Regions from separate parts of the Homo sapiens genome. Here region 1 is linked to region 2. The links come from fine-mapping of genetic effects on gene expression. Tissue or cell type: coronary artery. Region 2 holds a variant in brackets; the other region holds the start of a gene. All regions are shown on one strand. Distances are between the middles of the regions.

Region 1 (8,086 bases), 86 kb before region 2:
GCATGGTGGCGCACGCCTGTTGTCCCAGCTACTCAGGAGGCTGAGGCAGGGGAATCGTTTGAACCCGGGAGACAGAGGTTGCAGTGAGCCAAGATCGTGCCACTGCACTCCAGCCTGGTGACAGAGCAAGACTCTGTCTCAAAAAAAAAAAAAAAAAAAATAGCCGGGTGTGGTGGCAAGCACCTGTAATCCCAGCTACTCAGGAGGCTGAAGCACTAGAATTGCTTGAACCCAGAGGGCAGAGGTTGCAGTGAGCCAAGATCACGCCATTGCACTCCAGCCTGGATGACACAGCGAGACTGTCTCAAAAATACAAAAACAAACAAATCTTTGGGAGTGATGGTTTCACGGGTGTTTAACATATCAAAACGCATGAAAGTGTACACTTTAATGTATACAGTTTTATCGTGTGCCCATTAAATGTACCTCAATCATGCCGTTAAAAAAAAAAACCTGAGGAATTTCTATGCAAGGAGGCTATCATAATCAGACTTTTTCATAACTGTAAGAACTTTGTTGGCCAGCCGTGGTGGCTCACCCTGTAATCCCAGTACTTTGGGAGGCCAAGGTGGGTGGATCACCTGAGGTCAGGAGTTCAATACCAGCCTGACGGATATGGTGAAACCTCATCCCCATTAAAGACACAAAAATTAGCCGGGCATGGTGGTGGGCGCCTGTAGTCCCAGCTACTCAAGAGGCTAAGACAGGAGAATCGCTTGAACCTGGGAGGCAGAGGTTGCAGTGAGCCGAGATCACACCACTGCACTCCAGCCTGGGTGTAAGATGGAGTAAGACTCCATCTCAAAAAAAAAAAAAAAAAAGAGGAACTTTGTCCTCTTTAAAGCAGCTAATGCACTATGCAACAATGCTGCCTTGGTTGCCCTAAGAGTCCATATCCTATTTTGACAATTAAATAAGTGTAATAATTACAACTATGATTCTATGACTTACAGTACCTACAACTGCTAGACACTGTGCTAAGCATGTTATGGAGAGAGAAGATTCTTAGAGAAAAATTACTTGGAGCCAAATTTAAGGCTTAAATGGAAATTAAACCCAAATCAAATTGGTATACATAAAAACCAGTAAACTCAATTGCCTCTGCCTCCCAGGTTCAAGCAACTCTCCTGCCTCAGCCTCCTGAGTAGCTGGGATTACAGGCATGCGCCACCACATCCAGCTAATTTTGTATTTTTAGTAGAGACCAGGTTTTCCGTGTTAGTCAGGCTGGTCTCGAACTCTCGACCTCAGGTGATCCGACCGCCTCGCCCTCCCAAAGTGCTGGGATTACAGGCATAAGCCCCATGCCTGGCTTTTTTTTTTTTTTTTTGAGAAGGAGTCTAGCTCTGTTGTCCAGGCTGGAGTGCGGTGGCACAATCTCAGTTCACGCCAACCTCTGCCTCCCAGGTTCAAGCGATTCTCCTGCCTCAGCCTCCTGAGTAGCTGGGATTACAGGTGCCCGCCACTACGTCCCACTAATTTTTGTATTTTTAGTAGAGACAAAGTTTCACCATGTTGGCCAGGCTGGTCTCAAACTCCTGACCTCAGGTAATCCGCCTGCCTCGGCCTCCCAGTGCTGGGATTACAGGCATGAGCCACTGTGCCCGGCCTTCTACTTCTTCCAGTAACACTTTATATTTATTTAGCAATCAAAGGTAACAAATGCTGCAGACAGGTAATATATGATTCATACCCAAATTTTTTAAAACTAACGTTTTTTGAACTGCTCAAAGTCATACATAGCTCAAGGGCCAGGCAGAGGGGGTGGCTCACGCCTGCAATCTCAGCACTTTGGGAAGCTAAGGCTGGAGAATGGCTTGAGGCCAAGTCAAAATCAGCCTGGGCAATACAGTGAGGCCCCATTTTTACAAAAAATATAAAAATTAGCCACGCATGGTGGTGCGTGCCTGTAGTCCCAACTACTCAGGAGCCTGAAATGGAAGGATCGCTTGAACCCAGGAAGTTGAGGCTGCAGTGAACTGTGATCATGCCGCTGCAATCCAGTCTGTGCAGCAGATTGAGATTCTGTCTCAATCCCCAAAACAGAGAAGGTCACACAGCTCAAAGGGAAGAATGTTTTTTTTTTTTTTTGAGACAGGATTTCACTCTGTTGCCCAAGCTGGAGTGTAATGTTGCAATCTCGGCTCACTGCAACCTCTGCCTCTCTAGCTCAAGCAATCCTCTAACCTCAGCTTCCCCAGTAGCTGGGACCACAGGTGTGCACTATGATGCCAGGCTAACTTTTCATATTTTGGGCTTTTTTTTTTTTTCTGGTAGAGACATGGTCTCACTATGTTGCCCAGGCTGGTCTCAAACTCCCGGACTCAACAGATCCACCCACCTTAGCCTCCCAAAGTACTAGGATTACATCTGGCCAGAGGAGCTAATTCTTGATCAGAAAGGTTTTCTGACTTCAAATCTAACATTATATCTATTATATCAGATTACTTCTCATATGGTTTGTAATTAACTTTAAAGGAAAAAAAAAAGGACACAGTATACCAAGATACCTACTTTTAAATATATACTCACTGAACATGAATGTTCTTCTCATATGTTTATCAAAATAATCAGTCCCATTAGCTAAACCTCATTGTGAGTCTCCTATATCTGAGGCATGTACAGTGTATGCTTAAAGGTATTAGACTAATATACACTATGGGAAAATAGTTCTAAAAAGAAAAGTTTGTTTTTGTTTTTTTTTGAGAGAGTTTCACTCTTGTTGCCCAGGATGGAGTGCAATGGCGCAATCTCGGCTCACTGCGACCTCCACCTCCCAGGTTCAAGCAATTCTCCTGTCTCAGTCTCCCAAGTAGCTGGGATTACAGGCAGGCACCACCACACCTGGCTAATGTTGTATTTTTAGCAGAGACGGGGTTTCTCCACATTGGTCAGGCTGGTCTCGAACTCCTGACCTCAGGTGATCCGCCTGCCTGGTCCTCCCAAAGGGCTGGGATTACAGACATGAGCCACCGAGCCCGGCCTAAAAAGAAAAGTTTTTTATACTCAAGCTGTTTCAGTCATTTTTGCTGCCAAGTCTACACAAATTTTCTGTTATGAACTATTTTTTACAATCTGCTTTTTCCCCTCCAAATGAAATGCTTGATTTCAAGAACTGCTCATTGTTGAGTGCTAATGCGGGGTAAGAACAACTTAACACACACACTAAAACTTACACTTAAGTTTACAAGCCTCTACAAATAAACCTCTACGTAAAAAGTTTTCACTCAGAAACAAATATATCCGTTTAAGCAAAGCCATATACAACACAATATTTTGAAACTTGCAATCTCACTGGGTTTAGTGTCTTTCTAGATGTGCTAAAAGCAATAAGGTAGCAAACACTATGCATTTTCAGGCTGGTAGTTTTTTCTTTTTTCTTCTTTTTTGTTTTTTTTTTGTATTTTTAGTAGAGACGGGGTTTCGCCGTGTTAGCCAGGATGGTCGCGATCTCCTGACCTCGTGATCCGCCCGCCTCGGCCACCCAAAGTGCTGGGATTACAGGCGTGAGCCACTGCACCCGGCCCAGGTTGGTAGTTTTCAAACGCTCTCTTCATGTCCCAACTTATGGGTCAAGGTCCACTCAATCTCATCCACATAGAGTATGTTTTCTTCCATCCTGCTCCAAAAACAGTATTAGAGACCCACAATCACGTCAGTTCCTAGACCTCGTCATAGCACAAGCCAACAGATAGACCCCACTGCTAAAGGAGCAGAGAGAACCACTGTCAGACCAATTCGGGAAGAATTCACGAAAAGCTGGAGCCCCAGGGGTGATGGTAGCGCCATCCCCAGGGTCTGATCACTTAGCTGGGCACAAACACCTACAAACTGAAGGCAGCTTAACAAAAGAGGAACAATGAGAACGATAAAAGCTACTTGAAGGACCACCCTCCCCATGTTGTGTAGCTTTAAAAAATGGTCCTATAGGCCGGGCGCGGTGGCTCACGCCTGTAATCCCAGCACTTTGGGAGGCCGAGGCGGGTGGATCACCTGAGGTCAGGAGTTCGAGGTCAGCCTGGCTAACATGGCAAAACCCCATCTCTATTAAAAATACAAAAATTAGCCGGGCGTTGTGGCAGGCGCCTGTAATCCCAGCTACTCGGGAGGCTGAGGCAGGGGAATCGCTAGAACCCGGGAGACAGGATGCAGTGAGCCGAGATCGCGCCACTCCACTCCAGCCTGGGTGACAAAGCGACACTCCGCCTTAAAAAAATAAAAAAAAAGAGGTCCTATAGGCAACCAACTGGCACAATCTCTGCGGGAGCCAGTGTCCCAGGGCTCAATCTTCATATGTGGCATCATAATACGCCTACTGGAATGAGTGCTTGAAAAAGTTAAATGGGAAAAGCCCATAAAGGTCAACATAGTGAACATGAATCTTCGACAGACTAGAGATTGAGGAAGAAAGCTCAATTCCCTTCTCTCTCTCTGAATGGTGGTGCGAGTGGCTGAAACTGATGATGCGTGTCCTCTCAGGCCGCGGAGGGTCGATGCTCCCTCTCCAGTGTGGGCGACCCTAAGTGTCACGGCTGCAGAGACCCGGAAAGAAAAATCACAGGATTCTAGAAACCGCATCTTTATCGGTGCAAGATACAGCCACGAGGGTGCCCAACTCTAAAATCGTGGCAGTGGGCTACATTTAAGTAGCTAACACTTCCAGGTCAAAACAAACAAAGGTTTTTTTAATGTTAAAAGTTCGCCTGAATCTCTTCGTGACGCCATTTTCTGCCCGTGACGTCAGGGGGGAGGCGCCGTGCAGCAACGTCACGCATTGGTGACGTCTGGTGGGGACCGGGTTTTGGGGTTTCTCACCAGTTCCGGGTCCCCGCAGGGGGGTCCCGGTTCTCTCCGTTCCTTTGAGTATGTTGTGGGGAGTGGAGCTCGGATAGTTCCTAGAGTCTAGGCAAGAAAAGCAGCACTGCAGGTACAGAGCCTCCTCTTCCCGCAAAATGGCGGCAGCTCTGCCGTCTTCCAGAACCTTCCCCAATCTGCGCATGCGCCAAGACTCCCCGGCTTTGGAAATAACCTCACTGGTTTCGCGGCAACCGTCCAAAGTACAGGTTCTCATTGGCTAAAGTCCTAAGTATGGGTGGAGCAAACTCAAATGCGTCTTAGCAACCACCGAGTTCCCATTGATTGGCTAACCTCAGAGACTCCAGAAAATGGAAGCGTCCTTTGGTAGCCGCCCATCACTCTCTCATTGGTTAAATGACTTGCGGAGGGCGGGGAAAACGGGACTGAAAACGGGAGTGAAGAAGCCACCAACCCCACTCCTGGTGCTCGCGTAGACTAGACCAGTGCGATGGGCGGAGCCAACGAGGAGGCACAATTTACATCCTTGGCCGTCCCTACTCGGATTTGCTGAAGGAGTCACGTCGGTCGTTAAGGTTAAGCTTTGTAGAGAACAGCGGCGTTTGTTTAACGTCCGGGGATGCTGAACTCGAAATCCCCGTTCTGAGCCGGCTACCTAAACAACCTTCCCGACCACCTCTCCTGACCTCGGTGCTTGGGACCAGGGAAAAGCAGATCTTGCCACAGACTTGTCTTGGCCCACACTCTGCCCTATCGTCATGGCCTGCTCCCACAGGTCATAACTTCCGTTCAAATCAGTACCCCCACATTTCCCACTGCAAGGGTAAATTTGAAAGTTTCTCAGGTGACTCCTTGGATGTAGCAGTACTGAGTCCTCTAACCGGAAAGAAGGAACTGATGTCCACCCTCACTTTCCAGGGGCCTCCAGGAGCCCCTAGACACTTCTGTGGTCTACTGTAGCTACCAAAAATGTAGCTGGTTATAACATGGGGAGAGCCAGAGTCGGAGGACCTGACTTCCAATTCTGACTTGGATACTAATATCACATCATTGTACCCATTTCAAACTCCCCCTCTGTAAAATGGAAAATTGGACTAGATGATCTCTTAGGACTTCAAACTGTAACCCTGTGGTTTTATTCAAAAAAAACAGGTAGCTTCTTGCTGGAGATTCCTGGATGGATTCCAGTCTTCCCAAGAGGTAACAAAGGAGAGGTAACCAGTTGCCCGTGCAGTAGCTCAAGAATACAGAAGAGAAACTGGCTTCACTCACTATTCCATCTTTTTCCAAGGTGGCAAACTCTATGCCTCCTCCCCAGAGAAAAGCCTAACTGTAGGTTCTAATGGACAAGAGCTCACTGTAGCTGGTCAGAAAGGCCTATATCCAGGACTACAATAGTCATTGCTCAGCTTCCTAAGTAGGGAATACAACTAGGCCCCTTTGGGTCTTGGATAGGCTAAGAGGACAGATCTGAACATGCCTGGGTCTAAGTGAGGTGTGGGAAAATAGTGGCAGGGGGCAGCATGGTCGTGCAGTAAAGGGCTATAACTTTATTTGTATTTCCTCTTACACAAAACCATCAAAACAAGAACAGAAAAAGGCTGAAAATCCGTTCAAACCCCATGTTCTCAGGGATATTCCAGGGAGTTCTTGAGGCTGAGTGCGTAGCTTCAAATCCAGCACTAATTCCTCACCCCCTGGCCTGAGGTCTTCATAGATTGGTGGCTTGAGCCCTGCAATTAATTATAATCCCTTGCCCACCTTGATGTAAGGCAGGAAAGCAGATTGAAATGCTCCTCTCTGATGGGCAAGGGGAATCACAGCCCATAGATGTACTGCACCTTCTGTACTACAGGAGCAGAACCTGAAGCTGCTTCCAAGGCTCTGGACACTTGGCACGCAGGGCTAGAGGCCAATGGTATATGAGCGGCCTGTGGGGTTATGAATAGCAGAACAGACTGGTGCTGTCACAGCCCACTCATACCACACCTTCTTGGAATTGCTGCATCGCCAGAAACGCACACAGATGGTTTGGCCTTCACGTACCGTTATGGGCTGCTGTAAGAAGAAAGACAGGAAGGTTCAGGGTGAAGCTATGAATTATACATGGCAATGTATTAAGGTAGGTGTGGAGATAAAATGATAAACATGACAAGACTGTCCCAACCCTCATGAAAGTTATTTGAAGCCTATCAGAACACAAATAATCAAAGGTGTGGTGAGAGCTGTGAACATGTACAGAGTCAGAAAAACACCTATGAAAGGGAACACTAACCTAGTCTAGGAGATCAGAGAAAGTTTATCTCACAATAAAAATGTTTAAAGAAGACCTAGAAGATAGGTTAACTGTGTGAAGAGACAAGCAAAGAACTCTACAGGCAAGAGAAAGGCATGAAAGCCTGAGGTAGGAAAGAAGATAGACAATTAGAACAAAAAGAAGGTCCATAAGGCTGAAGCAGTGTAAGCAAGGGGACAGTAGCTGCAAAGGCAAGCAAACACTCGATCACATCAAGTCTTACAAGCAATGTCCCAGATTTTGACTTTTATCCTAAAGACAATGGGAAGGCATTGAAGAGTTTTAAGCAAAAAAGAGAGATAAGATCAGGCCAGGCGCGGTGGCTCACGCCTGTAATCCCAGCACTTTGGGAGGCTGAGGTGGGCGGATCATGAGGTCAGGAGATCGAGACCATCCTGGCTAACACGGTAAAACCCCGTCTCTACTAAAAATACAAGAATTAGCCGGGTGTGGTGGCTGGCACCTGTAATCTCAGCCTCAGGGAGGCTGAGGCAGGAGAATGGCATGAACCCGGGAGGCGGAGCTTGCAGTGAGCCGAAATTGTGCCACTGCACTCCAGCCTGGGCGACAGAGTGAGACTCCGTCTCTTTAAAAAAAAAAAAAAAAAAAAGACAGCAAGAGAGATAAGATCAAATTTGAGTTTTTAAAAGATGACTCTTGCTCAAAGTAGAGAACAGACAGAAGAGTAGCCAGAGTAGATGCGGGAAAGCCAGGCAGAAGGCCACTCCAAATACTCCCAACACCTACCACTGGGATCCAAGAGCATATGAAATCAGGAGAACATGAGTCATAGTCAACTATCTTCCTGGGAGAAGGAAAGAAGCACAACACCAAAGGCAAAGGTTACTGCTTAACTAGAGAGTCTTAAAAGCAGTTCCTACCTTAATAGGGAAGAGGATGGGAAACCATGAGAACATCCCAGGAGAGTGAGTCTCTGGACGGATACCTGTGTGGACAAAATAATGAAAAAACAGA
Region 2 (8,102 bases):
GAGAGATGCATTTCTCTCTTACCCTGTAAATTAAAACATCACAATTAAAAGGAGAGGAGGAGCCGGGCATGGTGGCTCACGCTTGTAATCCCAGCACTGTGGAAGGCTGAGGTGGGCCGATCACCTGAGGTCAGGAGTTTGAGACCAGCCTGACTAACATGGTGAAACCCTGTCTCTACTAAAAATACAAAAATTAACCGGGCGTAGTGGCGGGCATCTGTAACCCCAGCTACTCGGGAGGTTGAGGCAGGAGAATCACTTGAACCCGGGAGGCAAAGGTTGCAGTGAGCCGAGATGGTGCCACTGCACTCCAGCCTGGCAACAGGGCGAGACTCCACCTCAAAAAAAAAAAAAAAAAAAAAAGAGTAGGAGGTTAAGAGAATTTTCTATATATTGAGGGTTTTCTTTTTTCTTTTTGAATAGGCAATCTCATTTCAGAAAGAGGCAATATCAATGCCTCTGAGGTACTAAAACATAAATCTGACAATGCATTTTAATTACATGTGGTTATTAAAGAATAGTCTTTAATTTGCTCTTTCCACCCTTTATATCGAAGAAATGGCTTTTTCTGTGCCAGATACTTACTTCTCGCAAAAGCTTAACTCAAATACATTTACAGCTTCCTTGTCATTATAGTCACTGGGAGGCACAGCTAAACCTGAAACTAAAGGTTAAACCAAATTAAAACTAAAGGTTAAAGGAAAGCACTAAGCACTTCTATGTCAATTTATAGATGAATCACTTATGTATTCTTTTCCTTCCTAAATAAGGGCCTACACTGCTCCTGCAGAGCTTTTTCTTTTTAATTCTTTATTTAACCTACATCATGCAGGGAGTTTGCTCTTAAACATAGATGCTGTGGGCAAAAGAATGTTTTGGTGATAATAAATAATAGTATTCAAATGCTTGCCAGCTGGGTTCAGTATTTGTAAAATCAGTAATTAAGATGCATCCGGCTGGGACACTGGCTGAGTTGTCTAACTCCTTTCTGGTACCAAACTCTCTTGCCTCACGCACTTACTCTTTCTTGCAAGAGGCTTTTACCCCTACCAGTGTTGAGCCTGCCTCAAGCTCTTCCCCTCTCTTTTATTTTTATTTATCATTTTTTTGAGACGGAGTCTCGCTCTGTTGCCCAGGCCAGAGTGCAATGGCAAGATCTCGGCTCACTGCAAGCTCTGCCTCCCAGGTTCAAGTGATTCTCCTGCCTCAGCCTCCCAAGTAGCTGGGATCACAGACACGTGCCACCACATATGGCTAATTTTTATATTTTTAGTAGAGACAGGGTTTCGCGCTGTTGGCCAGGCTGGTCTTGAACTCCTGACCTCAGGTGATCCACCCGCCTCAGCTTCCCAAAGTGTTGGGATTACAGGTGTGAGCCACTGCGCCCAGCTCCTTCTTCTTTAAATAGTCTTTCCTTGGTCGTCCTTCCTTGGTCATCTTTCCAAAACAGCACTGTACTGCAGGTTAAAAAAAAAAAAAAAAAAAAAAAAAAAAGGGCTGGGCGGTGGCTCACGCCTGTAATCCCAGCACTTTGGGAGGCCGAGGCCGGCGAATCACGAGGTCAGGAGATGGAGACCATCCTGGCTAACACAGTGAAACCCCGTCTCTACTAAAAATACAAACAAATTAGCCGGGCGTGGTGGCGGGCGACTGTAGTCCCAGCTACTCTGGAGGCTGAGGCAGGAGAATGGCGTGAACCCGGGAGGCGGAGCTTGCAGTGAGCCGAGATCGCACCACTGCACTCCAGCCTGGGCGACAGAGCGAGATTCCGTCTCAAAAAAAAAAAAAAAAGGGTGGCCGGGCGTGGTAGCTCACACCTGTAATCCCAATACTTTCGGAGGCTGAGGTGGGTGGATAACTTGACGTTAGGAGTTCTAGACCAGCCTGGCCAACATGGTGAAACCCTATCTCTACTAAAAATACAAAAAAATTGCCAGGCATGGTGATACTTGTCTGTAATCCCAGCTACTCAGGAGGCTGAGGGAGAAGAATTGCTTGAACCCAGGAGTCAGAGGTTGCAGTGAGCCGAGATCACGCCACTGCACTCCAGACTGGGTGATGGAACGAGACTCCATCTCAAAAAAAAAAAAAAAAAAATGAGGTTCTCCTCTGGCTGCACCATTTATGAGCTGTGTGAACATTAGTAAATTATTTCACTTTTCTGAGACCAAGTTTCTTCATCACTATCTACTTTGAGTGGTTTTTGTGAAGATTATACATAATATATGTAAGGCACCTATAGAGTGCTGGCACATGGTCAGTGCTCCACTAGTAACGGCTGGATGATATTATGGTTATTCCTGTAACATTTTGTGTTCCCAACCTGGACACCCACCCTGATTCCTTAATCTTTTTTTTTTTAAGAGGCGGGGTCTTGCTATGTTGCCCAGGTTGGTCTTCAACTCCTGGCCTCAAGCCATCCTCCTGCCTCAGCCTCCTGAGTAGCTGGGATCACAGGTGCGAGCCACCACCTTGATTCCTGATTCCCTAATTTTGAATAAAATGCAATGGCTTGAAATAGAATTTGGGGAAATTTGCCCCCAAATTTAATATTGAATTTCTAACAAACAACACATTCCTCAAGTCTATGAGGATGCATTTATAGATACAAAACCTTCTATGACGCAAATTAGAAAGGTAATTTAGTATTTGTAATTTACTTGCTATCATGACCTGGTCTCAGACTAAGGATAATATTTTATGCTAGTTTTTAATGCTAAATGTATTTTCCTATTGTGAGTTCAATTTGTTCCTCAATTGCTCTTCTGTTTTTCTACTTTGTATGTTACCATACTATGTCCATTTTAAAACATCACATTCAGGGCAACAAATAGGTGTTTTCCTGAATTAATTTGCCTATAAAAACTAGGTACAGTGTGGTCTAGCACAATGGGCATTCAAAGAATTCTTTTTTGGTTTCCATGGACACTATTGCTGACTTCATTTCCCAGCCTCTTGCTATAGTCTCTCACCTAAACTCTAAGATATGGAAAGATATTGGGATCAGCAGGTAATAAACGAGTATTTCACATTATATTTACTAACCAGGTAACTACTTAAGTGCTGGATAAATGACTCAAAACAAAACATTAATTTCATTAGCTGCATATACCCCCATTAAAGAAGGTGAGCTGGGCCAGGCACGTGGCTTACGCCTATAATCCCAGCACTTTGGGAGGCTGAGGTGGGCGGGTCACCTGAGGTCAGTTCGAGACCAGCCTGGCCAACATGGTGAAACCCTGTCTCTACTAAAGATACAAAAAACAAAACAAAAAAAAGTAGCCGCGCATGCTGGCGCGTGCCTGTAATCCCAGCTACTCAGGAGGCTGAGACAGGAGGATGGCTTGAACCCAGGAGGCAGAGGTTGCAGTGAGCCAAGATCACACCATTGCACACCAGCCTGGGAGACAGGGCGAGACTCCGGCTCAGAAAAAAAGAAGGTGAGCTGGTGAGTGGGGTGAGATATTTTTAGGCTAATATATTCATATATATATATATATATATATATATATATATATATATATATTTTTTTTTTTTTTTTTTTTTTTTTTTTTGAGACAGAGTCTCGCTCTGTCGCCCAGGCTAGAGTGTGGAGGCACGATCTTGGCTCACTGCAACCTCCACCTCCCAGGTTCAAGCAATTCTCCTGCCTTAGCCTCCAGAGT[C/T]GCTGGGACTACAGGCATGTGCCACCACTCCCAGGTAATTTTTGTATTTGTAGTAGAGATAGGGTTTCACCATATTGGCCAGGCTGCTCTTGAACTCCTGACCTTGTGATCCGCCCTCCTCAGCCTCCCAAAGTGCTGAGATTACAGGCGTGAGCCATCGTTCCCGGCCAAAATATATATATATATATTTGATACAGAGTCTCACTCTGTCGCCCAGGCTGGAGTGCAGTGGCACGATTTCGGCTCACTGCAACTTCTGCCTCCCAGGTTCAAGCGATTCTTCTGCCTCAGCCTCCCGAAGAGCTGGGATTACAGGTATGCACCACCACACCTGACTAATGAATGCTGACCTCAAGTGATCCGCCCACCTTGGCCTCCCAAAGTGCTGAGATTACAGGTGTGAGCCACTGTGCCCAGGCCCAAAAGTTTTTTATATGTAAGTCCATGTTAAAGGATGACTCACCAAAATGCATTGCACACTACTCAAATGAAAGGAAGACAAAGTCTCTACCTATAAGGCACTTAAAGTGTATTTCAGATGGGAATGTCTAAAGAATATGGGATGTTCTAAACATGGACTATCTAAAAAACAAATTGAGGCCAGGTGCAGTGGCTCAAACCTATAATCTCAGCACTTTGGGAGGCTGAGGCGGGTAGATCACCTGAGGTCAGGAGTTCGAGACCAGCCTGACCAACATGGAGAAACCCTGTCTCTACTAAAAATACAAAATTAGCTGGGTGTGGTGGCACATGCCTGTAATCCCAGCTACTCGGGAGGCTGAGGCAGGAGAATCACTTGAACCCGGGAGGTGGAGGTTGCAATGAGCCAAGATCGCACCACTGCACTCCAGCCTGGGCAACAAGAGTGAAACTCCGTCTCAAAAATAAATAAACAAACAAATAAATAACAAAGTGAAATACACACAAGTCCTAATAATATGGTATAGACTGAAAAATTTCTGAGGCGTTAGTTCAAAATAATGGAAACATTAACAAAATGAAATCATACTGAGAAAGAGTTCTTACAGAAGAAAAGCTTCCAGTTGAGCCTTGAGCAATGTATAGGATTAACTGATAGGGTAGTAAGACATTCTAGAGGAAAAAAAAAAAATTACAGGACTTAACAGGGTACATGTCAGAGGTCAGAGCAAAGGCGCTTATATAGTAAGATAAGGAGAATTGACAGAGTTATAGAGATGGGGTATAGAGATAATTGGTTAAAGACAACTGCAAGGTTATAAGCCTAAGAGTAACAGGATGGTACCACCACCACCACCAGAATGACAGAAATGAGGCAGTTGAGAGGAAATACCATGGCTGGGCATGGTGGCTCATGCCTGTAATCCCAGCACTTTGGGAGGAGGAGGATCGCTTGAGCCCAGGAGTTTGAGACCAACCTCGGCAGCATAGCAAGACCCAGTCTCTAAAAAATAAATAAATAAAAAGAGGAGACACCAGTATATTAGAGAAGAAGTGTATTTATTTAACATTTTAAATTTCAAATGATGGCAACATGTTTAAGTAGAAAGTCCTGAAAACAACTGACTAGGTCTAAAAAAGAGAAAAAGATCTTCAATCTTGGGATGCGTTGCCAACACAACATGACAGTAGATGTCACACTTAGGTTTGCAAAAAATATAAGCATTTGGGGTTCATTTCAGTATTGGTCTAATTTAAATAAATGTGAAACGAGCCTTAAAAATGTACTTTCCAGTACTTTTGGTATTTTTCATAAATATTTAGATAAAAAAGAAAGACAATTCATCTCCTTTAGACAGACAGTTCAGGGTAAGACTGTCCATAATTTTAACTATCCCTTTCCTCCCAAGTCACATTTTTGTTAGGACTAAATATATCATACTCTTGGCAGTTCCCTTGCTTGCTTTCTCCCCATTCTGAGTTTGAATTTTCTGCATGACTGAGTTCACCTCCAAACTATGAAAAATAAAAGTTTTCTCACTATTTAATAGATGTGTATGATATGGTATCACTCAGATGATATATGTTTTTATAATGGGTGCTTGACTCATTCAGGGTCATGCTAGCAATAGACTTCCTTAAATGTGATTACTGAAAGCATGGCAATTCATATCATAATCTTCATTTTAAGAAATAAATAAGGAAAACGGCCACTTAAAGCTCCTGCTGTGTTGGTCAGTCCTACTCCTCCACTTCAAGGTGCAAAATGGCTCACCTGTCAAAAGGTTCTCTCAAAACCTATTTTTATCAGAAATGAGCTCCTTATCACACAAGAGCAGCTAAGTAAATACCACAAAATACTATTTTCCCACATTTTAAAAGAGTGACTCGACTAATGGTCTGCAAAAAATCCAAGACCTTATTTTTAGGGGTAAAAAAGAGAGCTGTAGACCCAGAAGGCCGAATGCGGTCTTTAAAGGATTCCACGTAATCTGAAAATTCCACGTATATTTCTATAGCAGGATGAGAATTTTTAGCCCAGTATAGCACAGTCCTTTTTATTTACATTTGCTAAGATTACATTGGTAAGATTAATATTTCCGATTTCAGGTTTGCCTAAAGGACCCACTGCATTTATGGAGAAACTGAAAAATGAAAAAGTAGCTCCTAGAACTCGTGCCAGCGAGAACTTGGTAAATGTTAGTTGATTAAATATTAGTCAAGGATGACAAGGTGGACCCCAGGGAGGGCAGAACCGTTTCCGATGGGTCAGTGTGATTCAGCTACGGGAAAGGCGATCGCAGCGACGCGGGAAGCAGAGATCGGCGACTGCTCAAGAGGCCTCAGGGGACAGGGTGACTCGCCACTGTGCCCTACCATACAGTGCGCTCTGGGAGTCCCGGGTAAAGGGGGTCATTCCCGCGAGGGATGCGGAGAGCAGAGCGGCCGGAGGAGCGGCTAGGGATCTCGCCGGGTCACCGGGGAGGGTAGACTACGTAGCCCCGAGAGCTTTGAGAACTTGGGCTGAAGGCGGCGCTCGCCGTGAGAACTGACGCGGAGGTGCAGCTTTGCAGCCCTACAGATGTTCTACCGCGTGTGCCTGGCGCTACCGCACGGGCTGACTCAGCTAGGCAGAGGCGGAGGCGGGCGCGCGGGAGACAGAACTATCCGCGGCGCCTGCCCGTGTACCCGGCTACCGCGCGCACGCGGGGAGACACCGCCCCGTTTGCCTTCTGGCTCCCGGTGATTGGCGGTTAGACGATGGCTGGGGAGCAGGGTCACGGACACTATTGGCTGCAAACAACAGTCACTCAAAAAGTCAGGTAGGGGAGGGGCCTCCTCAGGGAGGGACAAGACTGTGAGGCTTTTTCAAGGCCGTCAGACGCCATCTTTAGCTTGTTTTTGTTTACTTGCTTTTGTTCTCTGCTGCTCACAAACCTGTGTGTACACGATTATAAGCACAGTGGCCACAAATCGGCGTCACACGTTGGGTGGTGGCCGACTTTTAGTTACTGCTGGCCTCGGTTACATTTCTTTCACATGTCACCTGCAAATTAGCAGCTCCTCACAGTTCAAAGAAGTTTCCAATACTAGGGGCCCCGAGGATTCCCAGGCAAAATCAACAGAGTTTAGTTTTGCTTTGCTTTGGAAGGCCAAGCCAACGATATATATGTGCGAGGAATTCTCTCCTTTCTTAGGAAGAAAAAGCAAGAACAGTGGATATGACCCTACGTTCCTGGATGTAGAAATCAAATAGCCTAGGAAATCAGGGATACGGGCTCTGCACTGTTCAGGGAGAGCTCTCCCTATTTTTTGAGACGCTAAAAAGTAAGGTAAAAAGTATATGTGATGACCTGTAGTGATGTGGAAAAGAGCTAAAAAGGGTAAAACTCCATTAAAAATTCCCGTAACTGGCCGGGCGCGGTGGCTCACGCCTGTAATCCCAGCACTTTGAGAGGCAGAGGCGGGCGGATCACCTAAAGTCAGGAGTTGGAGACCAGCCTGACCAACATGGTGAAACCCCGTCTCTACTAAAAATACAAAAATCAGCCCGGCATGGTGGCACATGCCTGTAATCCCAGCTACTCGGGAGGCCGAGACAGGAGAATCGCTTGAACCCAGGAGGCGAAGGTTGCAGTGAGCCAAGATCGCACCATTGCCACTGCAGCCTGGGCAACAAGAGCGAAACTCCGTTTCAAAAAAAAAAAAAAAAAAAAAAAAAACTCCCATCACTGTTGTGATCACAAAGATCACTAAAATGTGACTAGATTTCAAAGAAATGCAGGTCTGAAATTGTGGAATAATCCACAGTCGAGCCAGTATTTATTAAGCACTGGTCTGACTTGAATTGTTAGAGAATAAAAATACACTCAGCACAAGTAAGAAACCCAGAAAGCCCAAACAGGGCCACTTTTGTTATAAATTTGTACAAGTAACTTTATTGCAGTCAGTATTTAGGAGTCAAATACTGCTTGAAATAGAGTAGGATGCTAGCTGTGTAATAGAAATGCATTATTA

The links. PIP is the estimated chance that this variant, and not a neighbour inherited with it, causes the effect.
Region 1: RBM23 starts here. The variant in region 2 is fine-mapped to the expression of RBM23 in coronary artery (GTEx, PIP 0.98).

What each region holds. Positions count from the first base shown.
Region 1 is chr14:22,914,184-22,922,269 of GRCh38, forward strand. RBM23 (RNA binding motif protein 23) reads right to left here and starts at 4,966. Exons shown (of 14, transcript NM_001077351.2): 1 at 4,816-4,966. It overlaps PRMT5 (protein arginine methyltransferase 5), which reads right to left. Exons shown (of 17, transcript NM_006109.5): 16 at 7,993-8,057; 17 at 6,346-6,873. The coding sequence ends at 6,721. PRMT5-AS1 (PRMT5 antisense RNA 1) reads left to right here and starts at 5,273. Exons shown (of 2, transcript NR_120600.1): 1 at 5,273-6,937. RefSeq lists enhancers at 3,018-3,782, 4,271-4,440, 4,511-4,620, 4,711-4,780 and a silencer at 5,041-5,340.
Region 2 is chr14:23,000,374-23,008,475 of GRCh38, forward strand. All of the region lies in intron 1 of C14orf93 (chromosome 14 open reading frame 93), which reads right to left. LOC124903286 (a long non-coding RNA gene) reads left to right here and starts at 2,053. Exons shown (of 2, transcript XR_007064075.1): 1 at 2,053-3,010; 2 at 6,195-8,102. RefSeq lists enhancers at 6,268-6,637, 7,571-8,102 and a silencer at 6,798-6,847. The variant C/T (reference allele first, on the strand shown) is at 3,666.